Regions from separate parts of the Homo sapiens genome. Here regions 1 and 3 are each linked to region 2. The links come from fine-mapping of genetic effects on gene expression. A gene starts in region 2. Each other region holds a variant in brackets. All regions are shown on one strand. Distances are between the middles of the regions.

What was found. PIP is the estimated chance that this variant, and not a neighbour inherited with it, causes the effect.
Region 1: its variant is fine-mapped to the expression of FBXO10 in whole blood (TOPMed, PIP above 0.99).
Region 3: its variant is fine-mapped to the expression of FBXO10 in whole blood (TOPMed, PIP above 0.99). The same link has a PIP of 0.9 or more in T cells.

What each region holds. Positions count from the first base shown.
Region 1 is chr9:37,528,106-37,538,383 of GRCh38, reverse strand. It overlaps FBXO10 (F-box protein 10), which reads left to right. Exons shown (of 11, transcript NM_012166.3): 3 at 441-1,274; 4 at 6,326-6,475; 5 at 9,124-9,260. Among named protein-coding and RNA genes, the nearest start is that of FBXO10, 43 kb to the left of the region's middle. RefSeq lists a silencer at 6,460-6,519 and enhancers at 8,894-8,943, 9,044-9,413. The variant C/A (reference allele first, on the strand shown) is at 5,773.
Region 2 is chr9:37,572,373-37,582,650 of GRCh38, reverse strand. FBXO10 (F-box protein 10) reads left to right here and starts at 6,271. Exons shown (of 11, transcript NM_012166.3): 1 at 6,271-6,440. RefSeq lists a silencer at 6,238-6,617.
Region 3 is chr9:37,516,967-37,527,244 of GRCh38, reverse strand. FBXO10 (F-box protein 10) reads left to right here. Exons shown (of 11, transcript NM_012166.3): 6 at 2,073-2,143; 7 at 4,268-4,420; 8 at 5,407-5,676; 9 at 8,807-9,120. Among named protein-coding and RNA genes, the nearest start is that of POLR1E, 36 kb to the right of the region's middle. The variant T/C (reference allele first, on the strand shown) is at 4,430.

The DNA.
Region 1 (10,278 bases), 44 kb after region 2:
GCAGTATACCTTGTCCCCTCTCTTTAGAGACATATTTTGCTGTGCACCACGTGCATCAGTTGCCACACAGTCAGAACTCTTTGCCAGCACATGCGGCTAGGCCTCTCTCACTGCCTGTCCTAGCCCTGGCACGTGATTGAGACTTGAGGTTTTAGGAGGAGTCATGCTGCAGTGTGAACTTTTCTGCCATCATCTACTTGTCTCCCTTCCTTTGAGATTAGAAGGATGGAGGTGCGGGCAGCTCCAGTTTCCCTCCCTCTCTGATGCAGAGCAGCTCCCCAGTTCCTTTTGGGGACAGCTGACATCCAGACCCCAGTGGGGAGGGGAAGATGATCAGCAGAACAAATGGCCTTTCCATGTTCTACCCTCCTTAAAGGGCAGCTAGAGTCCAAAACCAATCTCATCCCTCTTACAGCCGTTTTCTTCTTTTCATTCCCCAGACAACATCAGGTCACGTCCAGTTTGACAACTGCAACTTTGAGAACGGGCACATCCAGGTCCATGGCCCGGGTACTTGCCAAGTGAAGTTCTGTACCTTCAAAAACACCCATATCTTCCTGCACAACGTGCCCCTGTGTGTCCTGGAAAACTGTGAATTTGTGGGCAGTGAAAACAACTCTGTGACTGTTGAGGGTCACCCATCTGCAGATAAGAACTGGGCCTACAAGTATCTACTAGGGCTTATCAAGTCCTCACCCACTTTTCTCCCCACAGAGGACTCTGACTTTTTAATGTCCCTGGACCTAGAGAGCCGGGACCAGGCCTGGAGCCCAAAGACCTGTGACATTGTTATCGAGGGCAGCCAGAGCCCTACCAGCCCAGCCTCTAGCTCCCCAAAGCCAGGCTCCAAGGCTGGCTCACAGGAGGCAGAGGTGGGTAGTGATGGTGAAAGGGTGGCCCAGACCCCGGACAGCAGCGATGGAGGCCTGAGTCCCAGCGGTGAGGATGAAGATGAGGACCAGCTGATGTACAGACTATCCTACCAAGTGCAGGGCCCACGCCCTGTATTGGGGGGCTCATTTCTGGGCCCACCTCTACCAGGAGCATCCATTCAGCTGCCCAGCTGCCTAGTGCTGAACTCACTGCAGCAGGAGCTGCAGAAGGATAAGGAGGCCATGGCACTGGCCAACTCCGTGCAGGGCTGCCTCATCCGCAAGTGCCTCTTCCGGGACGGGAAGGGAGGCGTCTTCGTCTGCTCCCACGGCAGAGCCAAGATGGAAGGAAACATCTTCCGGAACCTGACTTACGCAGTGCGGTGTATACATAATAGCAAGGTGCTGTCATGACTTTAGATTGGTCAGGGGGCTCCTGTGGCTATATGTAGGAAGGGTTTGATGGGGCTATTTTGCATTTTAAAAATAATTTTCTTTAAACTTATTCACGCACGCTTGACGTCATGCCCATCATCTGATTTGGAAAGGACAGAAACGCTTTTTCTCATTTCCCAGAAAGAGAGGCCCAGAGAGAGAACGTGGCTTACTCAGGGTCACATAGCAAGTTAGGCAGAATTGAGACTAGAAACTCGGGTCTCCTGCCTCTTTTCACTATGTCATGCTGCTGCTCACATATCTCACCATGTCGGAGTAGGAGAAACAAAGCCTGGATAAGAGAAAATTCAGGGAGATATGATTACTACCTTCACTCCAAACTGGAGTAGGGTTGTTGAGGAAACGTCTGTGCTGGGTACAATGAGAAGAAGGTCCAGGGAAAATTGGACACGTGATAAGAAGGGGTGGAGAGTGAGGGTGTCCCAACAGCAGAAACATCCTACGCCAGAGCCTGGGTGTGAGGTTGAATTCAACCATGCGGTGGGGCTAGGTTGAAGGATGAAGCTGGGGGTGAGCAAAAGCTACCTTACCCAGACCTGGAATCCCCCTTGAGACATTTGGGCCTTATGCTAAGAACAGTCCTTCTAGCCACTGCGACAATCAACACCTTCTATGTGCTGGGACTTAGGGCACCACAGGACAATCTGCAAATCCTGTAAATGGTTGATGACAGGAAGGCCTTCTGAAGGGAAAGACAGCCCATGCAGAAGAAAGCATGGCATAGCACCTAGATTCGAGTCTCACCTCTCCACTAACTCACTATGAACATGACCTTCACTTTCGTAAAATGAAAATAAGCATCCCTATTTTTCTTCTCTCACTGGCTATTGGAAGGTCCCATGCCGGAAGTATTCAGTAAACTAAAGAACATTGTACAAAGGTCACTCATGAGTGTTGCAGGCTTCTAAAATGGTTAATAGCAATCACATTTTAATTAATTTAAATTTAATTGTGTTTTACCCAGCCCACTTCCAAAGAGGATTTCAGGTGATGTTACTTTGAAAGCATAATGCAAGACTCCTGTACACATACATAAAAGAAAATGGCCAAATAAAAAGGGAAAGGTAATAGCTTTGCTGTCGTGACTACCACGATGAAAGGATCTGGCTCAAGCCCTCAAGGAGGGCATTCTTCCTTGCATAGTTATTGAGAATATGGCTTTCTAGTTAAAGTCTGGCTCTGCCCCTTAAGTCGGCAGGGTGAAGACGCGAGGCAAAGGAGGTGTGTGTGAAGGCCCAGAAGTAAGGGGAGACACACCCTTTCACCCTTTCAAGCAAGGCCTTGATCCTTGCTCCCCCACAGAAGGCTGTCACCTGGCTCTGTCCTCTAGAACATCCCAGGAGGGTAAAGGCTGGCAGGAGGAGCCTGGTTGCTTGAGGCTCCAAGAAGAAAAGTGTCAGCCGGGTGCTGTGGCTCAAGCCTGTAATCCTAGCACTTTGGGAGGCTGAGGCGGGCAGATTGCCTGAGCTCAGGAGTTCGAGACCAGCCTGGGCAACACGGTGAAACCCCGTCTCTACTAAAATAAAATAAAAAAAAAATAGCCAGGCATGGCAGCGGGCACTTGTAGTCCCAGCTACTCGGGAGGCTGAGGCAGGAGAATTGCTTGAACCCGGGAGGTGGAGGTTGCAAGTGAAAGCCAAGATTGCGCCACTGCATTCCAGCCTGGGTGACAGAGCAAGACTCCGTCTCCAAAAAAAAAATAAAAAAAAAGAAGTGTCACCGACTGTGATTTTCTTCTTTATGTGTCATAAATTTTAGTTGGAAGTCAGATATCTCATGTAGGACAGTGGGGACTGAGCTCTGTAGTATTTAGTTTGGAAATGGGCACACCTCTTCTTTTGCCTGGCTCTTAGGAGGTCGATCTAGTTAGGAGCTGAGCCCGTTTGAATTATGGTGATGATAGGATTATCCTCAGCGTCCCGTAGGCTTCAGCTCTCTCCAGCATTACCTCGTGCTAGTTTTCTCCGCTTCAGATCTTCCTTTGTGCCTGCTGCTCAGAGGCGATCTCCGCTGCTCTCGCCCTCCCTCAGCAGTAGACTGCCATTATTTGTCACCCTACGTGATGGCAGGGTTTCTCTCTTGTCCTGGGTCATCCTTAGTCTAGGTAGGTGCTGTGTCTGTGGTCTTGAGAGCAGGACTTTTTCAGTGACCCTGGCTCTACCCCCAGCACTAGGGGACCTCTGATGATCTGGGCCTAAGTCACTTTCCTCCCAACACCCCCAGAGATAAGAGTGTTTTCCCGCTGTTTCTCTGTGCATACGGTTTGTTTTGTAAGAGAGTTAGGGGGAAAGAACACAGGAGAGGGGCTTAATGCCTCTCTCACTTTTGTCCCCAGCCTGCGTCAGGAGGGTGCTGTCTCCAGTCTCTCATCTGCCCCCAGTTTTCTCCATGAACACCTAGTGAAGGCCACAGAGAAGTGAACAGGTGCAGCTACTCCCAGAGTTTCTGCACTCACACTAATTCACAGCTGGTCTTTAACAGTGCATTGAAAATGTTAGCTGAGTTCTTACTGGCTTGTATGACACATGCAGCCCTGCATTCAGCAGGGAAGTGCTCAGGCCTCGTCTCCTTGGAGGCGCCTGTCTTTCTTTTTTTGAGACGGAGTCTCACTCTTTCACCCAGGCCGGACTGCAGTGGCACGATCTGGGCTCACTGCACGCTCCGAAAGGCACCTGTCTTTTTGTAGCATTCAGGCTAGCCGGTTGTCCAGCAGCCTCAGCTCTGATGGGTTCCACCAGAAAGTCCATGTTTGTGTATATTCTTTCTACTTTCTCCATCCTAAGCAGAAGCTGAAACCTTACCATTTATACTCTTGTTCTACTTTAGTCTTCACAGAATTTTGTCCTAATGCAATATATTATTAGTAGTACACAATTTATAATAATATATTTTATTATTAATCTATAATTGTTTAAGACAGCATAGATAAACATTCCAGATTTTTTATATATTATCATGCTTTGGTATCCGTGGGGGCTTGGTTCCAGGATACTAAAATCCACAGATGCTCAAATCCCTTATATAAAATGTTATAGTATTTGCACCTAACCTGCACACATCCTCCCACACTTCAGTCATCTCTAGATTACTTATAATACCCAATACGATGCAAATGCTATGTAAATAGCTCTTCTACTGGGTTTTTTTGTTTGTTGGTTGTGTTTTTTTTGTTTTTTTTTTTTTGAGACGGAGTCTCCACTGTTTAGCCCAGGCTGGAGTGCAAAGATGTGATCTCAGCTCACTGCAACCTCTGCCTCCTGGGTTCAAGCGATTCTCCTGCCCCAGCCTCCCAAGTAGCTGAAACTACAGGCATGAGCCACCACGCCCAGCTAATTTGTTGTATTTTTAGTAGAGATGGGGTTTCACCATGTTGGCCAGGCTGGTCTCAAACTCCTGACCTCAGGTGATCCGCCCGCCTCAGCCTCCCAAAGTGCTGGGATTACAGGCATGAGCCAACACGTCCAGCCTATACTGTTGTTGTTTTTTTTAATTCAATTTTATTTTATTTTTGAGATAAGGTCTCACTCTGTCGCCCAGGCTGGAATACAGTGGCACAATCTCGGCTCACTGCAACCTCTGCCTCCCTGATTCAAGAGATTCTCCTGCCTTAGCCTCCTGAGTAGCTGGGACTACAGGCATCTGCCACCATGCCTGGCTAGTTTTTGTATTTTTAGTAGAAACGAGGCTTCACCGTGTTGGCCAGGCTGGTCTCAAACTCCTGACCTCAAGTGATCCGCCCACCTCGGCCTCCCAAAGTGCTGAGATTACAGACGTGAGCCACCACACCTGGCCTGTTTTTCAATTTTATTATTTATTATTTTTAATAATGTATATTCAATCCACAGTTGGTTGAATCCATGGATGCAGAACCCACAGACATGGGGGAGACAACTGTACTTATTAAACATAAAAAGAAAATGTAATTGGAAATATATCCCTTTATTAGCAGGTTGCTGGTTATGGGAACTTGTTTGAAGGAGGCTTTGTTATACCAATATCTCTAATCATCCCTTCATTTGGAGTCTCAGTAGTTTTCCACCCCAGGGTGATACACCATGAAAGATTTAGGATGTGCAAGAACAGGCCTTTGTTTTATAAAGTGGAAGGGAAGGTGGGAGAGGAGAACCTGTGTGGTACCTTACTGTCCGTGCCGTCTCAGACAGGTGGATTTTAGTGAAGGTGCATTGGAAGTGGTGGACCTGGAACTTTATTTCATTAAAAGTAGCTGCACCCTCGACCCCTGGGGAAATCTTCATGCAAACTTAGTGCATGTAAAGTTTGAAGACCACTCAGTCCCATCTTCCCCTAAGCGTCCTTTCTATCCCATCATCCAGCTATGCTGCTTGCAGGTTCTGAATATAGAGCACAGGGCCAAGCTTTGGTCCAGGTTTTAGTTAAAGGACCAGTGTGGGCCAGGTGTAGTGGTTCATGCCTGTAATGCCAG[C/A]AGTTTGGGAGGCCAAGGTGGGAGGATTGCTTGAGCCCAAGAGTTCCAGACCAGCCTGGGCAACATAGTGAGATTCCATCTCTACAAAAAATAGAAAAGTTAACAACAAAATTACTCCAGCCCACATCCATAGTAAAAATAAAAATAAACAAAAATTCAAAAATTAGCCTGTAGCCCCAGCTATTTGGGAGGCTGAGGTGGGAGGATCACGTGAGCCTGGGAGGCGGAGCTTGCAGTAAGCCGAGATCATGCCACTGCACTCCAGCCTGGGCAACAGAGCAAGACCCTGTCTCAAAAAAAAAAAAAAAAAAAAAAAAGAACCAATGTGAGACCGCTAAGGAGCCTGCAGGGCAAAGCCAGGTAGGGCCTGGAGATGGCTGTGTCCTGGGAGCACACAGTGGGAGCGTGGCTGTGCCAGCATTGAGGCGTTTCTCTTGCCTACGGGGTAAACTGCATGGATCAGGTGGTGCGGAAAAGACTCAGGTGTTCCTCCAGTGGTTTCTAAAAAAATATTTGTAACAGGAAAATAAATGGCTTTCTCTTTTCTGCTTAGATCATCATGCTCAGGAACGACATTTACCGCTGCCGAGCGTCAGGCATCTTTCTTCGCTTGGAGGGCGGTGGCTTGATTGCCGGCAACAACATTTACCACAATGCAGAGGCTGGTGTAGACATCCGGAAAAAGTCCAACCCACTCATACTGGTACTTTGTGTTCGTTCCCTATTCAGGGTGACTCTTGGTTTTCAGAAACCATTTGTGAGGATATTTAAATACACGTTGCCCTCTTGTATTTACGTGCTTCCTGTTTGCAGGTGGCTCCTGCTCTGTCCTCTGCGTGTCCTTGTGACTCTGTGTCTCTGTCTGTGTATTAGCAGTGACTTTGGACAAGTCATTTTCTGGTCATCTCCCCGTTAATAAGGAGGAGGACCAGAAAGACAGGGAAACCTCACAGGGCCCTCAGCCCTCATATGCTGTGGTTGGCTTTGAGTTTGATAAGGTTAAAGAGAGTGATGTCTGCCCTAAAGACACTTGGATCCAACAACAAACAAAAACAACAGCAGCGAACCCACCAAGTTAGTTTATTCACTTGTGTAAGAGGACATTTCGGGTATTTAGTTCTGAAGATTGTTTCGTGGTTATTGTGAGGGCATATTGAGTTTGATTTTCTACCCGTGTGAAAACCACTTAAAATCCTAGACTGTGTGGCCAGTGACACGAGAGACCAGCTCCTTTTCTGCTCTGGCTCTTCCTGAGAAGCAGGTTTGGGGTTTGGGGGTTTTTTATTTTGTTTTTACACAGATTTATGGGGTATGGGAGGAATTTTGTTACATGTATACTGAGAGACAGATTTCCTAGGAGTTGGGAAATATAACAGACTTTTTATGGGCTTGAAAAAATAATAGCCACCATTAATACATAATGCTTATTATACGCCAGATGCTTTTTTAAGCACTTCATAGATATTTACTTGTCATTTAATGCTTACAGAACCCTGTGAAGAATTATTATCATCCCTATTTTATAGTAAAGATATAGAGCCTGAAGAGGCAGAGGATCCTGCCCAAAGTCCTACACCTAGTGACAGAGCTGGGATTTGAATCCAGGCAGTCTGACTCACGGGTAATGCTGAACCCATCATATCTTAACTGCCCATAAAGATACAGAGAGAAGGCTGGGCACAGTGGCTTATGCCTGTAATCTCAGCACTTTGGGAGGCCAAGGCAGGAAGATCACTTGAGTCCAGGAGTTTAAGACCAGCCTGGGCAACATAGCAAGACCCTGTCTCTACAAAAAATTATAAAAATTAGCTGGGCATGGTAGCTCACACCTGTCGTCCCAGATACTTGGGAGGCGGAGGTGGGAGGTGGGAGGATCACTTGAGTCTGGGAGGTCATGGCTGCCATAACTATGGCATGGTCATGAGCCATGATTGTGCCACTGCACTCCAGCCTGGGCAACAGAGCGAGACCCTGTCTCAAAAAAAGAAAAAGAAAATACACACAGCTAGCCAGTGTCTCCTGCCAACCCCTTCCCCTCACTGTGTTTCTACCATGCAGCTGGTGGTTGATGCATGGCTTTGGCTTAGGAAATTATTGCCCCTCTGGCTAGAGAGATGAGGGGTTTGCCCTTCTGAGGACAGAGGGATAGCAGGTGGAGGGGGAAGGGAGTGGTATATTTTAGTCCTGGCGTTGTGAAAGGGTGTAGGGATGGAAATGCTGCTGCATACTCCTTTTGGAGCTCTTCAGCCCTGTGCGGGACTTCTCTTAGGCAGTGGTTGCTCTGATGAGCCTGCCAAATCCTTCAGGAAAAATCTGGAAAGAGTAAGAATAAGGAGAGTTTGCACACGAAACACTTTAAAGCCAACTAGAACTTTATTTCTGCGAAATCATTTTGGAAGAGATACAGCTAACTTCCCAATTTACAAAGTATAGAATTGGACTTCAGCTATAAATTAACTTAGAGTGAGATAATTTTATTATTATTCTAATCTAAAAATATTAAGTCACTGTGCAAAAGCAACTAACTGGAATGGGAAAGAGAAAAACTAGATTTCAGATCTGGCTTTTCCACAAATGTACTATATAATCGTGGGCCTGTTTTCCCATTCGCACAAAGAGATATTAGAAATGAATATCTTGCCGGGTGTGGTGGCTCACACCTGTAATCCCAGCACTTTGGGAGGCCAAGATGGGAGGATCACTGGAGGCCAGGAGTTCAAGACCAGCCTGGGCAATGAAGCAAAACCCTGTCTCTACCAAAAAAAAAAAAAAAAGATATCTCTTGGCATTCTGTAGCTCATACACCTTCTAAGACCTTATGCCCCATGGGACAGCTTGGCCCCCCAGTGTCTGCATCTTCCGCTGGCCCTCCCTAAATGAGAAAGGACTAGAAGTCAAACAACTGTGACCCCTCTCTGGATGTGGCCCCTTTAGGACTGCAGTTGGCCAACATTTGGTTGCACTGGGGTGCTGCCTTTCCTCAAGAGATGGCCTCCCTGGACCCTAGAAGTTATGGCCTGGCCAAATGATTATGTGTTTAGGGGACTCATTAGAGGCTCTGAAACTTTCAGTAGCCTGCCTTGCAGGTGAAGACCAAGAGCCCTCCTAAGAGGCTGGGCAGCGAAGACTCCAGTCTTCATAGTCTCCCTTACAGGTTTTCATGTGTGTACTGGTGCAGGAAGGGCAGGGCGGCAGTGTGACCCATTCCCTTTGTCACGGGCTAGGGCTCTTACAGTGACGTCATTTTCTCCACTGTGTTCATCCTGCCGCGGAGGTGTGGGCGGCACCTGGGCACTCTGCTTCGCTGACGTGTCTGATCTGGCTTCTGTGGTGTCTCATTTTCACTTGCAGTGTAACCAGATCCACCATGGCCTTCGCTCTGGCATTGTCGTCCTTGGCAATGGGAAAGGCATCATCCGGAACAATCAAATCTTTTCCAATAAGGAGGCTGGCATTTACATCCTGTACCACGGAAACCCCGTTGTGAGGTGTGTGCTGCTGTTTCCCTCCTTCATCTTTGTTAACCTCCTCCCTGTCTCTCCTCCATTTGAAAACACTCTTTACGGAAACAACTGTACAGATGCAAGCAGAGAAGAGACTTCACTCATCATCCCACCCCAGTAACACAGCGGCTTTTGTGTTTATGTGCCCTTCCAGTGAACTCCGTGTAGGCGTTCTATTCGGCAGTCACTACTGAGCACTTCCAACATGGGCAGGCTCTGCTCCCTGGGAGCTTACTCTAGCCTGGAGAAATGGGCACAGAAGTACCCCCAGGCAGGGATGGAACAGAGATTTCAGCTCACCTAACAGTTTCAGTTACTTGCTAGTGGTGCCTGGGGGTGCTGTGTCAACATCCTGGTGCTGCACCTGGCCTCAGCACAAAAGCATGCTGTGGTCAGGGACTGATATAAGTGATAGGTGGGAGGCAGCAGTGGCAGTCCTGGGACCCTGTCTGCCATCCCAGCTCTAGTATGGGGCAGACTGTGATAAATGCTGTCAGAGTGGTACCAGAAGGAGAGACTCATTCTGACTAGGAGGATGTGGGAAGGCCTCATTTAGGAGGTAGCATCAGAGTCAGACTTTGGAATATGGGTAAGACTTGGACTCATGGAGATAGGGGTAGGGAGGGGTCGGTGGATGTTCCTAGTAATGGAACAGCATGAGCAAAGGCAGCAGGGCACAGCAGATTCAGGGGTTAGCAAACCGTTGACGGTGGCTTGAGAAAAAATCTGACATGGTGTGACAGTGCTATAGAATATTTTAAATTGGGATGGTCCCAGAATATCTTGGGCCCTGTGGTCACTGCAGTGTGACCCTTGACGTCCTTGCGGCAGACCATCTGTGCCACACAGCAGAGTGGAAAGGAATGATGGAAAGAAAGGCTTGGGCCAGATGAGGAAGGCCTTATGTAGACCAAGCTGAGGCGGGGGAGCCTATTCTGTCTACACAGCGGGGACTCATTAAAGGCTCTGAGCAGAAGACTCACACAGTTATGTCTGTGCTTTA
Region 2 (10,278 bases):
CACAAGACCTTTTCCTTACTCTGTGTTATGGACATCACCCAGGAGACAGTGAACAGTTGCTACTTACATGCTACTTGTGTATGCTCAGTATTACAGATATGCCTATGTGGTGTCAGTTGCCTACTTTAGCATAAGTACACAAAACATAGAAATCACATATGTAAAAGTTGAATATACTTGTTACTGAGATGTAAAACATTACAAAATCATTTATGCACTTTGTCTTTTAAACATACGAAATATTTTCAGAGTTATGAAATATGTTCTTAAATTGTTTCTTTCATTCAGAAATAAAACACAGCTGGTTTTAGTCCAACAGTCATTATAAGGCTAAAAAGATCTACTTTAAGCGTGTCTAATAGTTTTTCATCTTTTTCTCAGTCACATTAGTAATAGTAGAGTTGACCCTTGAACAACACAGATTTGAAGTGCACAGGTCCACTTACGTGCAGATTTTTTTCAAAAAATGCGTTGAAAAATCGGAGATTTGCAACAATTTGAAAAAAGCACACATATGTAGTCTAGAAATATTGAAAAAATTTAAGATAAAGGATGTCATGAATGCATAAAATATATGTAGATTGTAGTCTTACTCATAAAATGCACACATCTATTATAAAAAATTAAGATTTATCAAAACTTATGTACACAGACCATACATAGCACAATTTGAGGTCAAGAGAAAGATGCAGTATTAAATCATAACTGCATAAAATTATCTTTTGTAATAGTGTAATACAGTAAGTCCATAGCCACCTCTTGTTGCCACTGCAGGGAGCTCAAGTGTTATAGGTATCCACTTAAAATGCCATGTGACACTCATCTCTGCATGAGCAGTTCCTCGCTCCAGTAAATTGCAAATCAAAGTAAAAGCGATCCCTCTCTGTCTCATGTATTTTTTGTGTTTAATACCATACCACAAAACTTTGAATAACTCCATGGGATCTATACAGAGTGCCACTAGTGATGCTGGAAGTGCTCCCAGGAAGCAGAGAAAAGTCATGACATTAAAGGAAAAAGTTGAATTCTTGATATGTACTATAGATTGAGGTCTGCAGCTGTAGTTGCTCTGATTTCAGACACGACTAATCTTGTAAACAGACAACCTAAACTTAGAATCTAAATAAATACGGTATAGTACTGTCAATGCTTTTTCTCTCTGTGATTTTCTTAACATTTTCTCTAGCTTACTGTGTTGTAAGAATACAGTATATAATAGATAATGATACAAAATACATATTAATCTATTTTTTATGTTATCGGTAAGGTTTCTGTGCAACAGTAGGCTATTAGTAGTTAAGTTTTTGGGGAGTCAAAGTTACATGCAGATTTGTGACTGTGCAGGTGTCGGGGCCCCTAACTCCCACGTTTGTTCAAGTGCGGGGTATTTTCATTTCCACTTAAGTATATAGAGGCCAAAAATGCAAAAAAGAAAGAAACTATTACATAAACAGATGTACAAAGATAATACTGCATTTGAAATACAGTCACTTGAAATGTTCACTAATCAGCTTACATATTCAAGTATAAATTCGGTGAACAAAATGATTTAGGGACAGCGATATGTAATGTAAAAATTGTGGGTTGTTGGAAAGTAGAGATCTGTCTACATGGAAAGAATACTAGAATTAGGATTTCAATGTCCTAGATTATAGTTTCAGCTCTGCTATTTATCATGTGACTATGTGAGTCAGATTTTTTAGTTGCAAACACCAAAATCCAATTTTGACAGAAAAAGAAAAGTATTTTATTAAAAGGATAACAGGGAGTTCAGTATCACCAGGAGGCCTAGAGAATTAGGCTTGGAGAGTAGGCAACTGGAACATCACCCTTTGTTCCTTGGTCATACTCCACAGAGCTGGGGCAGTGAGGACGCCATTTCTGCTGAACATTAGGTGCCACCACTTACTTTGCCAAAGCCACATGCACAGAACCCTGGATCATGGCAGCCAGTGTTGCTCTAAGAACTTGCCGCACTTGCCATGGTCCCAGAGAAAATTATTCCAGAGACTTTATTGTGTCTCTGGTACTTAATTCAAAATCAAGAGTAATTTGTAGCATGATAGAATCACAAGGAGAAGCAGAGAAAATACCTGGAATTTCCACTTCTATAGTGAAAGGCATGTTCTGCTTCCCAGCAAACTCATAAACAAGGAATTCCCAAATGTAGGAAGGGACCTCAGATGCTGGGCAGCCAAAAAGCATGGCATGTCCACTATGTTGACCTGGGACACCACTCTGTGTGAGCCTACTTTTTCTGGAAAGCAAAGTAAATAAAGCTCCCATGGCTGAGGAGATTTTGTGTGTTCACTTATACATTTGCCAGTAAACACCAGCCAGGTGCCAGTGTATAAAGATGAGTAAGTTTCCTCTCGAGTCTAATGGTAGGATAGAGGCATGCAGAGGTGAGATGAGGGCAGAAAGAAGAGAGGGCTCAACTGTAGTTTGTGAATGATGTTCTTATATTTAAGTAGTTATATTTTTGGCTGGGCGCATTGGCTTACACCTGTAATCCCACCACTTTGGGAGGCCGAGGCAGGTGGATTACCTGAGGTCAGGAGTTTGAGACCAGACTAATCAATATGGTGAAACCCTGTCTCTACTGAAAATGCGAAAGCCTGTAGTCCCAGCTACTTGGGAGGCTGAGACAGAAGAATCGCTTGAACCCAGGAGGTGGAGGTTGCAGTGAGCTGAGACTGAGCCACTGCACTCCAGCCTGGGCAACAGAGCGAGACTCTGTTTCAAAAAAAAAAAAAAAAAAAAAAAACCCCTGGCCAGGTGTGGTGGCTCATGCCTGTAATCCCAGAGCTTTGGGAGGCTGAGGCGGGCGAATCACCTGAGGTCGGGAGTTTGAGACCAGCCTGGCCAACATGGTGAAACCCCGTCTCTACTAAAATACAAAAATTAGCTGGGCCTAGTGGCTGGTACCTGTTAATACCAGCTACGGGGGAGGCTGAAGCAGGACAATCGCTTGAACCTGGGAGGTGGGGGTTGCGGTGAGCCAAGATCATGCCATTGCACTCCAGTCTGGGCGACAAGAGCAAAACCCCATCTCAAAACAAACAAAAATTCCCATGTGGCACGTGATGCTTGCCCCACTAATAGGGAAGACAGCTTGCTCTTGTAGGACACTGCTGTAGCACTTTGAAAGTCAGCTGTTTTATACAAATACCAAAATGATAATGTTAGCTGGCACAAATCCAGAAACTCAAGCTTTTGATTGTTTATTGACAGTCATATCTGGACTGCCAGTTTCATGGAGTAAGATACTTTTCAAAGGATTAAATATGGCATAGCTTTGTCAGTCAGCAAGGTAAATCATCAGGCTCATTGCAGTGTGAGACTACCCCTGTGGTCTTTCTACTATACCTAGCTACTGTACAACTTTGTGTCTTAAAATAAATTGTTGGCTTTAGGTTTTAGTGTTTGGTTTTCTTATTTATAAAAGAGACCAGCTACATGGTAACTTAGACCTCACCCAGAATCATACCACATTCACCATATGGTAATAATAGATGGAATACATTTTTATGGAATATATTCTATAGAACCAGGGACTGAAAAAGGTCAGTAGGACCACGGGGTCAATTATTTCAGGCCACAATTTCGTGTAATAATTTCTTTTTCATAGTATTCTTGGTAAATTATGTTTCTATAGCTGATATTCTCTCGTAAATTCCGGAGGTCTGTATCCAACTCCTTTTCTTTTTTAGAGACAGGGTCTTGCTTCGTTGCCCAGGTTGGTCTCAAACTCCTGGGTTCAAGCGATCCTCCTGCCTCAGCCTCCTGAGTAGCTGGGATTACAAGTGAACTGCTTTTTTTTTTTTTTTTTTGAGACACAGTCTCACTCTGCCACTCAGGCTGGAGTGCAGTGGCGCACGATCTCTGCTCACTGCAACCACCACCTCCCAGGTTCAAGCGATTCTCCTGCCTCAGCCTCCTGATAGCTGGAATTACAGGCACGCGCCACCACACCCAGCCAATTTTTGTGTTTTTAATAGAGACGGCGTTTCACCATGTTGGTCAGTCTGGTCTCAAACTCCTGACCTCGTGATTCGTCCGTTCGACCTCCCAGAGTGCTGGGATTACAGGCGTGAGCCACCACGCCCAGCCGTGAATTGCTTTTTTAATCACTCCACTTGGATGACACACAGGCATCTCAAAATTAATTATTTTTAATTGATAGATAATTGTACATATTTATGGGGTACATGTGATATTTGACTCATGCATACAATACGTAATGATCAAATCAGGGTATTTAGAATATCCATCTCAAAAATTTATCATTTATTTGTATTGGGAGCATTTAAATCTAGCTATTTTGAAATATACAATAAATTATTGTTAACTACAGTCACCCTACTGTGCTATTGAACACTAAAATTTATTCCTTCTATCCATGTTTGTACCCATTAACCAACCTCTCTCTATCCCCTTCCCCTCCCAGCCTCTGGTAACTGTCATTCTACTTGCCAACTGCATGAGATCAACTTTTTAGCTCCCACGTATGAGTGAGAACATGTGATATTTGTCTTTCTATGCGTGGCTTATTTCACTTTACATAATGACCTCCAGTTCCATCTGTGTTGCTGCAAATGACAGGCTGAATAGTATTCTGTTGTGTATATATGCCACATTCTTTTTATCCATTCATCTGTTGATGAAGACTTAGGTTGCTTCCATATCTTGGCTATTGCGAATAGTGCTGCAATAAACATGGGGATCCAGGCATACCTTTGACATACTGATTTCCATTCCTGGATAAATATCCAGCAGTGGGACTGCTGGATCATATGGCAGTTCTAGTTTTACTTTTTTGAGAAACCTCCATGCATTTTTCTATACTGGCTGTATAATTCAGTGTATGAGAGTTCCCTTTTCTCCATGTCCTCACCAGCATTTGTTATTTTTTTGTCTTTTTGTTAATAGTCATTCTAACTGGCAGTGTCAAATTTAACAAGTTCAAATGGGAGTTCTTGATCTCCCCCCGCTTCCAAATATATTCCCCTTACAATAGTTCCCATTTCAATAAATAGCACCTCCACGGGCCCAGTTAATAGGTTAAGCTACCAATCTCTGCTTCCACCCTTAACTCCTGTCTTCACATAGTAGCTGACATACTGCTTTAAAAGGTATCAAATCCTCCACCCCTTCGATGGCTTCCTGTTACGTACAATTTTAAAATCCTTATCATGGCCTATTAAGTGCTGCGTGATCTGGCCCCTACCTACCTTTCTGACCTCACTTATATTGTTCTTCCCGTTAAAAAGCTTCAGACAAGCTAGACGTTTTCCATTTCCACAAAGAGCGATCTTTTCTCCTCCAACCCAACCCACCTGGTCCAAGAGTTTTCACAGGGCTTACCCTGCCCCTCTTCCATTTGGCTAACTCTTTATCTTACTCTGAGAGGTCTTCCTTGACTACCCTTCCTTGGTCCCTAATTTATTTAGTTTTATTTTTGAAACAAGAGTCTCGCCCTGTCACCCAGGCTGGAGTGCAGTGGCACAATCATGGCTCACTGTTAACCTCGAACTCCTGAGCTCAAGTGATCTTTCCTCCAGCCTCGGCCTGCAAAAGCGCTGGGATTACAGGCATGAACACCTGGCCCCTATTTTTAAATTACAGCTCCTTCCGTGCATTTTCTACAATTTTAAACACATATTGGTTTAAATGACACTTGATTACCGTCTACCTTCTCCACTACAGAATTAACTTCAGGAGAAGAGGAACCATATCTGCTTTGTTCACTTTTGTGCCCATAATAGTAACGGCACCAGCAGCAACAAACATACAGCATTTACTTTGTGGCAGGCATTATGCTAAGCGCCATACATACAACTAATTTAATATGTACTCCTAGTACATTGTCTGGCAGGTAGCCAATGGTCAGTTTGTTCAGTGAATGAACCCAGACCCTACATGCTCATCTACAGGGTGCCTAGCACCCCAGGAAACTGCTCCTTATACTGTTAGATAACTGGTGCTCGCAGGAATCTTATTTACACTGTATTGGCCTTAGCATGCCTCCCTGCAGTTTCCACCCACTGGTTCTATTTCTGCCCCTTCTGGGGCCACGCAACACGAGCCTGAATCGTCCTTCCGCAAGCTCGCCTTTGCAGTACCCGAAGCCCCACGCGCCCCCTCCTCGTCTGCCTTCCTCCCGCCTCCCGGTGCCCCTCCTGCAGATACAGCTTTTATGCGCGGTGGTCGGGAAGCCCAGCCCCGGCCAGCCAGCTGCTCCCGGCATCCTTCGCCGCCTTGCGCGTCACATGACGGCGGCGGCTCCGCACGATCCCCAGGCAGCTGTCCGCCCCCGGGCGGGGCTGGCCGCACGCCGCAATCCTACCGGCTGCTGCGGCTCCAGCGGGGGCGGCGGGTGGCTTCCAGGGCACCGGCGGCCGCGGCCCGGACTCCGCGGTGGGCGAGCGCCCTGTGAGGTAAGCGGCCGGTGCGCAGAGGCTGCGGGCGAACTTGGGCGGCCGGGGGAGGGGACCCGGGGCGCTTCCCCAGGCGACCGACCCAGGAGGCGCCGCTCAGTCCTGGCCGAGGCTGAGCGTCTGGTCGGGCTTCGGGCATCAGGGGTCTGGCAGGACCATGAGGCGTACCCTCAGGCCGCCCGCGGCTCCGCGGTCCCCCGGCATCCGGAGGCTCAGGCGCGCCGACGGAGAGCTATGCCTTGGTTTACCCTCCCGTAAAACTACCGGACGCGGAGCATGTATCTCCGCGGTGCCTCCAGCCCTGAGATTTTTCGAGTGTGTAAGTAAAGTCGAAGAAGAAGAAGCTGACTCTTGGGATGGGAAGAGCCTTCACCTAGGAACGCAGGGGCAAATATGGGGCTGGGCACCCACTGTGTATTTTATGCAAATCTCAAGGGGCAAATATGGGGCTGGGCACCCACTGTGTATTTTATGCAAATCTCAAGCCTCTCAGACGGTTTTTTCATCTTTAAACAAAAAGTGATAACCCCTGTCCTGCCTCGCTCTTAGGACTACAGTGAAGAACAGAGGGGAAAGTCATTTGAGGAGCCAGAACTCTGGAGTCAGTTAGCTCTGGTTCAGATCACAGTTCTGCCACTTACTGGCTTTGTGACCTTCAGCCAGATTGATTCCTCATCTGTGAAAAGGAGGTAATAAGCTCATGGGTTGCTGGGAGGATTAATTGTAAAGGGTTTAGCACACAGTGTCTGGCACAAAAGCCTCAGTAGATAATGCTGTTAATATAAGCATTATTAGTAAGCTAGAGATTGCCCCACGTGAAGGGCTTTTTCAGCAGAATAATCACATTTGTTTCTATATTTTTAGTCCTGAAAACTGCCGTTTTGGTTTGTAAGACCTTTTCTTTTTCTCATTCTGGGCCCCCTTTGCCTTCTCTTTTACAATTGGCATATGAACCTGTTGTTCCTACCATATGAGTCAGGCTGGATGGGAACATCAATTTACTTGAGCAGATTGGTATCAGATTCCCTCTGAGGGGAGAGAAAAGTGCCAGGCATGTGTAGCCACCGAAAAAAAAAACACAGTACGGTGATTGACTGTCAGAGCTGGAGGATGCCTGGGAAACCATCTAATCCAGCTGTCTCCTTTGCAAATGGAGAGACTGGACCCAGAAGGACGACAGGACTTTGATTTTGCTCAGGACCCAACAGAGTGCTGGCAGTGGGTAGTGGAGAGGATGGACCTTTTACCAGGCACTGTGCTTTCCCTCAGTTCTAATCTCATTCCGCATTTATTCAGCAGCTATATGGAACCCCTACTCTGTCTTGTACACCTACTAGGATCTGGACATAGAGCTGTGAACAAGACACACATGGTCCCTGTCCTCAAGGGGCTTTTTCCAGAGCTAGCTATGTTAGTTTGAGGTTATATAATGTTTTATATATATATCCATCTCCCTGCCCGTTCTCAGTACATTTTAAAATAACAATAAGCTGCAGCTCCCAGTGAGCTTACCTCATAACAGCTGGCCTCCAGGGATAGGAGCACACAGAGAGGCCTGAATTGTTTCCTGATCCCTCACACCAGTTCCAGAGCCCTTGCTGGAGCCTGGTGAGATTTGAGAGACTGGAGAAAAAGCTGCTTTATCAGGGCTTTTAAGAAAGGATTTCCTTCTGCCCTGGAGCACTTGGATTTCTTTGTCTTTCTGGTTTCAAGCCTATTATTGTTTTTAGATTTCTGAGAAGAGCCGCCTTCACCATAGTGCCATCATTTTGGTTGCCGTGGTTATCAGGGGAATTGTATTTTTATGATCGCACAAGTAGCTGTTAAGCAATAAATGCTCAAGCAGTCACCAGGTCACCATGAGTTTCCGTTCTCTGGTTTCTTTCAGTTGCAGTGCAGTTACACTATCCCTTCCTTCCCTCCCTCCTTTTTTCCTTCAATAAACGTGCATTGGTGGCAGTGCCAAGAGGAGTGGGAGTGAGTAGAAATAGATAAAAACATACGTAGACTCTGGCCTTAGGGACCTCAGATTCTTTGGCAGGGATAAAACTGAGGGCAGATTAGTGGGGGCTCTGATGATGTAGATAGGGAGTCAGCAAGAGCTCTCAGAGATGGGAGGGATGGTGTCCTGGGCAACCAAGAAGACATCACTTGCTTTTCACAGGAAGATGTGAAGTAAACAAATTCCTTGTACCTGCTTCAGTCAGGAAATAGATGGAACAAGTGTTTTGTTCTTTCAGTTTGCCTTAATGAATGAACCTATTCTTGAGTTACCTGTCATGGGTTTTGTTTGAAATGTCTGCTAATTTCTCTCATTACCCTCTTTTAGTTTAGTGATTATTAGTTTCCCACTCGTCTAAAATGTTTGATACTGTATACATAAAGGAATGTACACAAAGAGACATTTGATTAAGATTTTGTCTATTTCAGTTTAGATGTTTAACATGTGTGTCTCATTTCACAAGTTGGGTTTACATTCACTCTTGTCTTTCCTTATTTTTTTCTAAGTAGACTCCCAAGTCCTCTCTAATGTCCTTATTAGTGAGAATTCCAGTGTCTCCTTCTCCAGCCTCTCTGGGGGCTTATACATTCCAATGGGGTCAGTCTTACTGTCACTCTCCAGAGGAGAGAGAACTGCATTGTCTGAGCAGTCCACACACATTGTCATTCCTGACACAGCTATATGGCATAACTGTTGAAGAGCTGTCCTACACAGTCCACGGATGTGTGATCACTGCTGCTCAATGCCCTTATTGGACCAAATCTCTGCCAGCATGATTCCATGCTTGGTTTTCCAAGGTTAGAGCTTGTTTCATTTATGCTTGCGTGCTCAGCCATTCTCCCCAAAGCACCTCACTCTGGGCTTTTGTTGAGCTTTTCACCAGGCTGGGTTCCCCTGGTGTCCTGGAGAGTTCTCTTTTAGGGCATTTGGGGCCCTTCCTGCTAGCAACCTTGGTCATGGTCATCTAGACCACCCAAGAGATGTCTCTGTTTTCAAACTTCTTATCAGAGTTTGTGGGCTCAGTCCCTTCTCTTCTTAACCTTAACCCAAATCCCTTTGGCAAATTGGTTCCACATACTCTCCAGGGTTCTGCCTACCGATGATTCTCAGGAATGACAGCCTTCAACAAGATAGCTACCCCAGGACTTTGGGTGCCTACTCACCTTACTTTTCCATATGTAAAGAGGGGTCGTCAGGTCACCCTGAGCCACACAGATTTAGGCATTCTGGAAAATTTACTTGGCATGTACCCTGTTAGGGATTTTGCAGGCAAGGTTTTAATTTAAAAATAAAGGATTTTAGTTTTCTCAATTTTTCTAAGAAACAATAATCAGTATATTTATTTCATTTATTTGTTTTAAACTTTTTGAATATGAAATACAGCAAATATGCATGGTAAAAAACACAATATATAGTTTAGCAAATAACTCTAAAGGAAATACACACGTAATCACCAACATGTCAAGAACTGGAACATTGCCAATACTCAGTACCTGCTTCCAAATCATAATTTCCTCCCCTAGAAGAAATCATCTTGTGATAATCATTTTTTTGCTTTTCTTTGTAATTATATCACCTATGTATATATCCCTAAACAATATAGTTTTAAGTTTTTTAATTTCATACATATAGAATCATACTTTTGCATTTTGTGTTTTGCTTCTTTTGCTCAACTTGTTTGTGAGATGCATCCACGTGGCGGCCTCACTTATTTTCGTTGCCAACAGTGTTTCATGGTATGGCTGTGTCACAATAGATGTATTCATCCTGTGGTTGATGGATACTTGAGTTGCTTATAGTTTCTGACTGCCAAGTACATCCTTAGATATTTTCTGA
Region 3 (10,278 bases), 55 kb after region 2:
GATGAAAGGAGGTTATTTTGGATGATACAGGTGGGCCCAGTGTAACCACAGGCCCTTATGAGAAGGAAGCAGGGGAATTAGATTAAGAGAGCAGGGGCCGGGGCGGTGCCTCATGCCTGTAATCCCAACACTTTGGGAGGCCGAGGCGGGCAGATCACTTGAGGTCAGGAGTTCGAGATCAGCCTGGCCAACACGGTGAAACCCCATCTCTACTAAAAATATAAAAAATAGCCAGGTATGGTGGCAGGTGCCTGTAATCCCAGCTACTTGGGAGGCTGAGGCAGGAGAATCGCTTGAACCCGGGAGGCGAAGGTTGCAGTGAGCCGAGATCGTGCCACTGCACTCCAGCCTGGGTGACAAGAGCGAGACTCCATTTCAATAAATAAATAAATAAATAAATAAATAAATAAATAAATAAATAAAATATTTTAAAAAATAAATAAATAAGAGAGCAGGAGATGTGAGGACAGAAGCAGAAGTCAGAGTGATGAGGCCACAGCCCAAGAAGTGCAGGCGGCCTCTAGGAGCTGGAAAGGATGAGGAGTGGATTCTCCCCGGAGCCTCCAGATAGAACACAGGTCTGCTGACACTTTGATTTTAGCCCTGTGAAACCCATTTTGAACTCCTGGCCTCCTGAACTGAAAGATAGAAATTTGTATTGTTTTAAGCCACCAAGTTTGTGGTAATTTGTTATAGTAACAATAGGAAACTAATACACCAAGCTGAAAAGTCTGGGCTTTACCTTGGGGATGCTGGGGAACCATGAAAGAGTTTTGGGTGAGGAATATCATAATTAGATCAGTGTTGGGTTTTTAAAACATAGTCATCTTGAGAGAATAGGTTGTGCTTTTTTCCTTTGTTTCTTTGCAATGAGAGATAAGAGTCTGGAGCAGGATACGGAATGAAGTTTAAGATCCCTGTAATGGCCTGGATGAGACAAACCATAGGATCTATTTTTGCCACAGAAAGTTATATTTTTTGTCTTTTTATATGTTATATATGTTTCTCTTTTTTCCTTGGATGCAGAGAAGCACAGGACTCAAATTGTGCTCATCTGCAGTTAATATCCCATCCTGGGCTCTTGGTACACTGATCTGTCCCCTTCTTCTAAGTGTTTTCTCATCCCTCCTGTATCTTTATTCTGCTTGCCCCATGTACACACATACACACACTTCTCCAGGTGGCCACGGATCCTTTCTGGAGGTGAGATTTGTAGTAAAAATATGCCAGGGCTCAGTTACTCATGCTGGTAGTCCCAGCTACTTGGGAGGCTGAGGTGGGAGGATCACTTGAGTGCAAGAGGTTGAGGCTAGCCTGAGCAACATAGCGAGAACCCATGTCTTAAACAAAAAAATTGTAAACATTTTCTGGTTCAAACATTTGAGGGTTGGATAAAATACATATAAGGCCAGGCGCGGTGGCTCATGCCTGTAATCCCAGCACTTTAGGAGGCTGAGGCGGATGGGTCACTTGAGGCCAGGAGTTCGAGACCAGCCTGGGCAACGTAGCAAAACCCCATCTCTACAAAAAGTACAAAAAATTAGCTGGATGTGGTGGCGCACACGTGTAATCCAGGCTGAGGCACGAACATCGCTTGAACCCAGGAGGTGGAGGTTGCAGTGAGCTGAGATTGTGCCACTGCACTCCAGCATGGGCAACAGAGCAAGACCTCAAAAAAAAAAATGTATATATATATGCATGGGTATATATGTAGATGACAGTCAAGTGAGGCTACAGTGAACTGGATATCATTGTGCGTGTATAGCATAGTTGGGGGTTTAGTTTTTGGTCAAGCTGTCCCAGTGACAACTAAACATTTCTATATGCCTGGCTTATAAAGGGACTTTAGGAAATGCTTTTATGCCCCTGTGGACTTGAGCCATAGGGAGGCTCAAGTGATCCTCCACCCCAGCCTCCCAAGAAGCTGGGACTACAGGTGCACACCACCACACCCGGCTAATTTTTTTGTATTTTTTGTAGAGACAGGGTTTCCATGAAAGAAGGCAGTCTCCTGGAAGCATGACATTGATGCCCTGGGCTCACCTCTTTGTTTTGTTTTCCTTCCACTTTAGCGGGAACCACATCTTCAAGGGCCGTGCTGCCGGCATAGCAGTGAATGAGAACGGCAAAGGCCTCATCACAGGTACGGATGGGAACTGCCTGGCACCTGGCAGCCAGGCCAAGGTCCCCTGGCGTCACCCCCCAGCTTCAGGACCTCACACTGCTCCTTTACCCCCACAGACTATGGCCTCTTTCTCTGACTGGTGGGCTGGAGCTCAGGGACGCCAGCTGCATGGTGGCTGTGCTTCTTACAGGAGGGCCTAACACAGAGTGGGTGTCTGCTCCTTCCAGGCCCAGAGCCGACAGGCCCTCACAAGGTGGCTCACAGAACAGTTTCAGAAGCACTGATGCCCAACCACCTGTCCAAATCCCTCCTCTTGGTCTTTGTGCGGACCTCTGCCTGCTCTGGAAACCTCCGCCCGGCTAACCCCTGCTTATCCTTTGGGTCTTAGCTTAACTGTCACTTCCTCAGGGAAGCCTTCCCTGACTTCCCCATTGTACACAGATACACTCACTATACCCAGGATGCCTCCTCTCTAGGGCCTTTGACTTAATTTCTTAGTGGTTTGTGGTGTCCGTCTCCTCTGTTATAAAGTGGTAAATTCCACAAGGTGAGGGTCAAGTCCATCTGGTACATCAATGTAGCCTCAGCACAGAGCAGAGCCAGGCCTGGGATATGAAAGGGATTCCGCAAATACTGGTCCAGGGAATCCCCCTGACTGAACTTATCAGACATGGATTGAGCACGTGTGGTATACAGGCCGTGTTCCAGGAGCTACAAGTGCAGCAGTGAACGAGGCTGTCAGCCACTGACATTTTAGGAGAGGAAGCGAATAAATAAATAAAAGCCTACGTATATGAGCAAAAAACATCCCATCTGAGGGTGACAAGTGCTCTATGGATAATTAAGGCAAAAGAGGGACTGGGTAGGCATTTGGGATTGTGTGGTCAGGGCAGCCCTCTGAGAAGGTGACAAGGAAACCAGACCCTGAGTGGGAGTGGCTGGAGGAGCTGGGAAAGAACCTTCCGTGTAGGGCCGCCTGTGAGAACAGACTTGGCATGGCCGAGTGGACATCGCTTGTGGGACTGGAGTGTGGTGCACAAGGGGCCTGCAGTGGGGACATGGAGACAGGAAGAGGCCAGTCACACAGAGACTCCTGAGCCATTGCAGGTGAGGCTAGCGCCTTCTCACAGGCTTGTGGGTAAATGGCCACATTCTGCCTCTGAGGACTCTAAAGCCAGTTTATTTATTTATTTTTTTTGAGACGGAATTTCACTCACTCTTGTTGCCCAGGCTGGAGTGCAATGGCGCGATCTCGGCTCACTGCAACCTCCGCCTCCCAGGTTCAAGTGATTCTTCTGCCTCAGCCTCCCGAGTAGCTGGGATTACAGGCATGTGCCACCACGCCCAATTTTGTATTTTTAGTAGAGACGGGGTTTCTCCATGTTGGTCAGGCTGGTCTCGAACTCCCGACCTCAGGTGATCCGCCCGTCTCAGCCTCCCAAAGTGCTGGGGTTACAGGCGTGAGCCACCGCACCCGGCCTATTCTTTGTTTTGTTTCCTTTTTGTTTGGTTGGTTGGTTTTTTGGACACCAGTGTCACTCACCAAAGCTAGTTTATTCTTTTTTTTGAGGCAGGGTCTCAGTCTGTCATCCAGGCCAGAGTGCAGTGGCTCGATTATAGCCCACTGCAGCCCTGACCTCCAGGGTTCAAGTGATCCTCCCACCCAGCCTCCCAAGAAGCTGGGACTACAGGCACGCACCACCACACCTGGCTAATTTTTTTTGTATTTTTTTTTAGAGACAGGATTTCCCCATTTTGCCCAGGATGGTCTGGAACTCCTGGGCTCAAGTGATCTACCCGCCTTGGCCTCCTAAAGTACTGGGATTACAGGCATGAGCCACCATGCCTGGCCAAAACTAGTTCATTTTTAATCATCAGTCCTCAAGGCCATTGGGTGTATAGTAGGTGCCGGGGAGATAGGAGTGCACAAGATAGACACAAGCCTTGCCCTTGGGGAAAGGAGTCAGCAGATAAGTCCCTGAAACATCAGACAGCAGACAAGATTTACAGTGCTAATTGCTGGCAGGGTAAGGCCAGGGCCTTCTGGTCTGGAGTAGCCTTGATCAAAACTGTCCAAGTCCTATTTGCCAGCACTGGAGCTGGCCCTTGGGTACTGACCTTCTTTTCTGCTTCTCTCCATAGAAAATGTCATCCGTGAGAATCAGTGGGGAGGTGTGGACATCCGCCGTGGAGGGATCCCCGTTCTCAGGAGTAACCTCATCTGCTTTGGCTATTCAGATGGTGTGGTTGTGGGAGACGAAGGCAAAGGCCTCATAGAAGGAAATACCATCTACGGTGAGGAGC[T/C]TGTTCCCAACCCAGCCGGGGAGGCAGGAAGCCCAGGTTCCATCTCCAGCTTGTGGGTCCTGAGAAGGTCACTGCCTTTCCCTGTGCCTCAAAGACCTCATCTGAACAGGCACTCTCAGGCCACAGTCACCCAGGCCCTCCCAGAACAAAGAGCCTCTTACAAATCACATTGTAGTCCAGATTGACCCCGTGGGGTTAGCAAAGCAGAAGGCTTTATCCCCTTTTAAAATAGCAAAAGACAGGAGTTGTGTCATGTCTTAAGGACAGGACCATTTCAGCCCTGGCTCATGTGCATCTAACTCCTCTTATCCTTTCTTTTGATCCCAGAGAACGGAAAATATAATGGGAAAACAAGATAATCACAGGAAGAAAACTCTTCTCACTCACGCAGTGACTTTGGGCAGAGCCTTCATCTGTCTGGACTCTATCTCTAATAATACAGTGATAATAATAAAGATGACTCAGGCCCACCTCTCTACTCAGCCCTTTCTATGCATGATCACATTTAATCCTCATGACTGCCTTCTGAAGGAGGCACGGTTATTAACCCCATTTAAAAGATGAGAAAACTGAGGGACAGAGAGAGGTCTGGTAACCTGCTCAGGGTCTCACAGCTGGGAAGTGGTAGGGCTGGGATTCCAACTGAGGCTGCCTCCTATGCAGGGAGGGATTGGTGCCCCCTTGGCACTGTCACTGTGGGCTCATGTGCTTCTGATGTGGACATGTGGCCTGACAGTCCTCAGAGCACTTTCACACTGTGTGGAACGAGCCGAGCTTGTGAGGTTCACCTGATCCTGATGACCTCTCTTGTGTGAAGGTGAAGTCTGCAGCTAGAGCCATCAGGTGGCTTGTCCGAGGTCATTAGCAAGGCAGGGACTCTCTCCCAGGCCAGTGGCTTTTGTTTCCCCTCTCAGGGAGACTCAGGTGCCGCTTCACCTGAGTTCAGTGTCGGTGACCAGCTCCTCTCACTGTCCCAGCTAACAAGGGCTGTGGTGTGTGGATGATGTCGTCCAGCCTCCCCCATGTCACCAGCAACCACGTCAGCTACAATGGCCTGTATGGAGTGGCAGTATTTAGCCAGAAGGATGGCTCCAGCGAGTTACCTCGAGGCCACAGGGCTCAAGAGAACTTCAGCGAGGATGGGGACGCCATCCTCTGGGAGACAGAGCTGGAGAAGGAGGACGACCCACTGCGCCGGCCCATCACCATAGCTCTTGTTGAGTCTAACAGTATTAATCACAATGGAGGTGAGTATACCCCCTCAGCCCCTGCTCAAGAACCTTCCATGGCTCCCCACTGTCTTTTTTTTTCTCCAATTTAAAACTTTTAATTTAATTTAAATTTAAAAGTAAACTTTAATGTCAAAGATGCAAACCTGGGTAGGGCAGAAAAATCACACACAAGGTTGCCACTTCACACTTGGAGGGTTGCACAGCGGCCAGGCAGAGGCGCTCCTCACTTCCCAGACAGTGTGGGGGCCAGGGAGAGGCGCTCCTCACTTCCCAGACAGCGTGGGGGCCAGGGAGAGGTGCTCCTCACTTCCCAGACGGTGGGGCGGCCGAGCAGAGGTGCTTCTTATTTTTGAGACGGTGCGGCCGCCAGGCAGGGCCTTCTGCAGACTGATCCCAACTTGCCCTCAGGCCTCATCAGCCACTTCTTCCAGCCTGATCCCCAATCCTCCTGTATTTATTCATTAAACTTGAATCCATTCTTTCCTGCCTCCTAACCTGCTGACCTCACTCATGCCTTTCTCCCATCCACACGTCCCAAACTAACTTGAACTTCAAAACCTGTTGTGAATATCCCCCTTCATTCCTTCCTCCTTTGAACTGGGCCCTCCCCATCCCCACTGGCACTTGTTATGAGGCCTCGCGACTGTATTTATTTCTGTGGCTGTTTCATCAACACTGATAGGCCATGAACTTGAGACAAAGAACTGAAGCCCACCCAGCTCAGTGCCCCTGTCCCTGCAGTACCAAATCCCACCTCTGGCACACATGCTTTTAATCAACTCTAGGATACATTTCTCAAAATTCAACATCTCCCACGAGATGCATATCATGGTTTAATTGGCAGTGAGTTTTCCTTCTTAGAGAGGCAGAAAATAAAAGTGTTTTAAATCCATGTTATCCTAAACCTGATGAAAAATGGAGGCCAGGTGCCAGGGATCAAGCCTGTAATCCCAGGACTTTGGGAGGCCAAGACTGGGGGATTGCTTGAGGCCAGGTGTTCAAGACCCGCCTGGGCAACATAACAAGACTTGGTTTCTACAAAAAAAAAAAAAAAAAAAAAAGAAGAAGAAGGAGTAGAGAAAGAAAAATTAGTTGGATCTGGTGGCATGTGCCTGTGGTCCCAGCTACTCAGGAGGCGGGGGGATCGCTTGAGCCCAGGAGTTCAAGGCTGCAGTGAGGTGTGATTGCACCACGGTATTCTAGGTGCTCAGAGCTCAGGAGTGACAGGAGCAAGACCCTGTCTTAAAAGGAAAAAAAAAAAAAAAAAAAAGATGGTAGAAGATGTTTGATATTTCTTGAATTAAAAAAAAATAATTACTGTGTAGTTCACCTAACTCCAGGGCTCCCAAAGCCTCCTGATTATCAAAATCACTGTGGGGTGGGGGTGGGAGGGTAGGATGGATGGGTGGGTCGGGAAATGGAGGAAGGCTTATTCAGAACAGATTCCTGGGCCAGGCGCAGTGGCTCACACCTGTAACCCTAACACTTTGAGAGGCCAAGGCAGGAGGATCGCTTGAGTTTAGGAGTTCAAGACCAGACTAGGCAACATAGAGAGACCTCAATCTCTACTGAGAAAAAAAAAATTTTTTTCAGATTAGCTGGGCATGGTGGTACATGCCTGTAGTTCCAACTACTAGGGAGGCTGAAGTAGGAGGATGCTTGAGCTCAGGACTCAGAGTTCGAGGTTGCAGTGAGCTATGATGGTGCCACTGCACTACTGCCTGGGCAATAGAGCAAGACCCTGTCTCTAAAACAAAATAAAATTAAAAGAGATTCCTGGGCCTGGTAAGCACTTGCTTCTGGTAGTGGTAGAGGACAGGGAGATGGATAACCAGCAGCCCCAACCCACTTATTCAGAAAATGAGTTCTGTCTCCTCCCAGGTCAGAGGTTCCTCCATGTGGCCATGCTGTCTGTCCGGTACGACAGGCAAAGCCACCTACGTTCACAAATACTTATTTTTGTTGTTCTCAACCAAGCCAGGAGAAGCAACAGGCTGGTGCCACCAAGAGATTTGAGCTTGCAGGCTCATGGCTCCAGACACTGCTGCAGGGCCCCAGTCATTGTCCTGCACACAACCTCCCCCAGCACTGCCCCAACCCTTGTTGCTGTTGGTGGGCAGAGGGACCTACCGCAGAGCCCTCCTCTCCTCGCCCCCGGGTCTGGCTGCCCTGCTTTCTTTTCCTGACAAGCCATGGAGCTCTAATCCTGCTGACTTGGGGTTTTTCTCCTCATGTACCTAGTGTCTCTAAGTACACACAACCGCAAGCGTCAGTTTTCCTTTCCCAAATTTCAAACACATTTTTGACACATATTACTCGCTTAGTAAGTTTTTGTACTCCAAAATTACAGAACTTACATTAAGAAGAAAATTTCCGGCCAGGCATGGTGGCTCACGCCTGTAATCCCAGCACTTTGGGAGGCCGAGGCAGGTGGATCACGAGGTCAGGAGATCGAGACCATCCTGGCTAACACGGTGAAACCATGTCTCTACTAAAAATACAAAAAATTAGCCGGGCGTGGTGGCGGGTGCCTGTAGTCCCAGCCACTCAGGAGGCTGAGGCAGAAGAATGGTGTGAACCCGGGAGGCGGAGCTTGTAGTGAGCCGAGATGGCGCCACCGCACTCCAACCTGGGCGACAGAGCGAGACTCCGTCTCAAAAAAAAAAAAAAGAAAATTTCCCCAAACAGTAGGGAGGCAGATTCCAGGTTAGTGTAGGAAGGAGAGCAAAGCAAAACCCTCTAATGAGTAGATCTGCCTGTCCAGAGGGGGAGTGAGCAGCCTTGAGGCGGCAGTGAGCACCCCGTCAGGGAGGTGTAAGCGGCAGTAGGATGGCGGTGGTGCAGGAGGCATTCAAGCACACGGTGGGAGCTCAGGCCAGAGGAGCCTTCTCACATGGTGTTTCCCTGGCTACACTGAATAAGGACTTCATGCAGAAGAACCAGAGTTTTGTTGACGCACCTGGATTTCCTCCTGCTGTTTCATCAGCTTGGAAGACGCAAACTCAAGGGTTGTTTCTGAGTGTTGGTACCTCTTCTTCTCCACTCCGTTCTCCCGGAGTGCACAATTCAGGGAAGGCTTTTCCTGACTGGTGGTGTCAGGGCTGACCCTGGGACCCCCTGTGCTTTCCAACCCTTCCACCCATAGCCTCAGGACTCTATGTCCAGAGCAGCGAGGCACTGCATGTCATCACCAATGTGATCCACGCGAATGGGGACAGAGGCATTACTGTGGCCCAGAGCAGCCAACCCACCCGAGTGGCCAACAACAGCATCTCCTGCAACCGGCAAAGTGGGGTCAAGGTTGAGGCCCAGTGCAAAGTGGAGCTCCGGGGCAATGGTATCTATGACAACAGAGGCCACGGCATTATCACCAAGGGCGACAGCACCATCGTCATTGAAAACGATATCATTGGCAACCGGGGCAGCGGGCTGCAGCTGCTGCCCAGGTCCGACACTAAAGTGAGTATGTCTGCATGTGTGTGACGTGTGGTGCCCACACAGGGCACAACCCTGGGATAGTCCTCGTGGCCTCTGCTGAGAACAGAACCGTAATCACTCAGCACTACAAGGGACAGTATCCCTCCTGCCAGGACTCAGCCTGGGAAATGTGGGTGGGACTTCCCACAGGGGGGGACGGAGAAGCTGAGTCCTGAAGGATGAACAAGGGCTCACCAGCAGGAAGCCAGGGATGGGGTGTCCCCTCCTTGTCATGGTGTTGGGAGCCTCCCGAGTTATCTTCATGGTCTCCGGGTCAAGGTCAGGACTATTTCAGCTCTCTTTCCTTAACAGAATAATCATGCACAGTGCCTGCTGTACAGTAGATGCTTCATGAAGAGAGAGATCCTGCCTTGGGGCCTTTGCATACACTCTTCCCTATATACCCTGCATACCTCCTGCCCGCCTTGCACTGCAGTCCTGCAGCTTAGCTGTATCTTTGTTCAGGAAGAGTCCCTGAGCTCCCACCTCCCACCCCAGGCTGTTTGAGTTATCTCTTGTCTAGTGCTTTTGTCCACACATACCTCACAGAGCACTCCCCACAGGGCTTGGTCCTCACAGAGCACTCCCCACAGGGCTTGGTATCTCTTCCTTCACCTATTTGTCTCCCCACCGGACTGAGCTCTGAGCACCTTTCTATGCAGAGCTCCGTTTCACTGTGGAGCCAAACAGATCTTGTTCCTGCCCTTATGGAATTACGATCCCAAGGGCTCTATTTTTATTTTTAGTTCAACAGTTTTTGGGGTACAGGTGGTTTTTGGTTATATGGATAAGTTCTTTAGTGGTGAATTCTGAGATTTTGGTGCCCCTGTCACTCAAGCAGTGTACACTGTACCCAATATATAGTCTTTTATCCCTCACCCTGCTCCCACCCTTCCCCCTGAGTCACCAAAGTCCATTATATCATTCTTATGCCTTTTCTTCGTCATTAGCATAGCTCCCACTTATAAGTAGTGAGCAAGTAAGGACATAGGATATTTGGTTTTCCGTTTCTGAGTTACTTCTCTTAGAATAATGGCCTCCAAGTCCATCCAAATTGCTGCAAAGGCTGTTATTTCATTCTGTTTTATGGCTGAGTAGTATTCTGTGGTATATATATACCACCTTTTTTTTGTTTTTTTT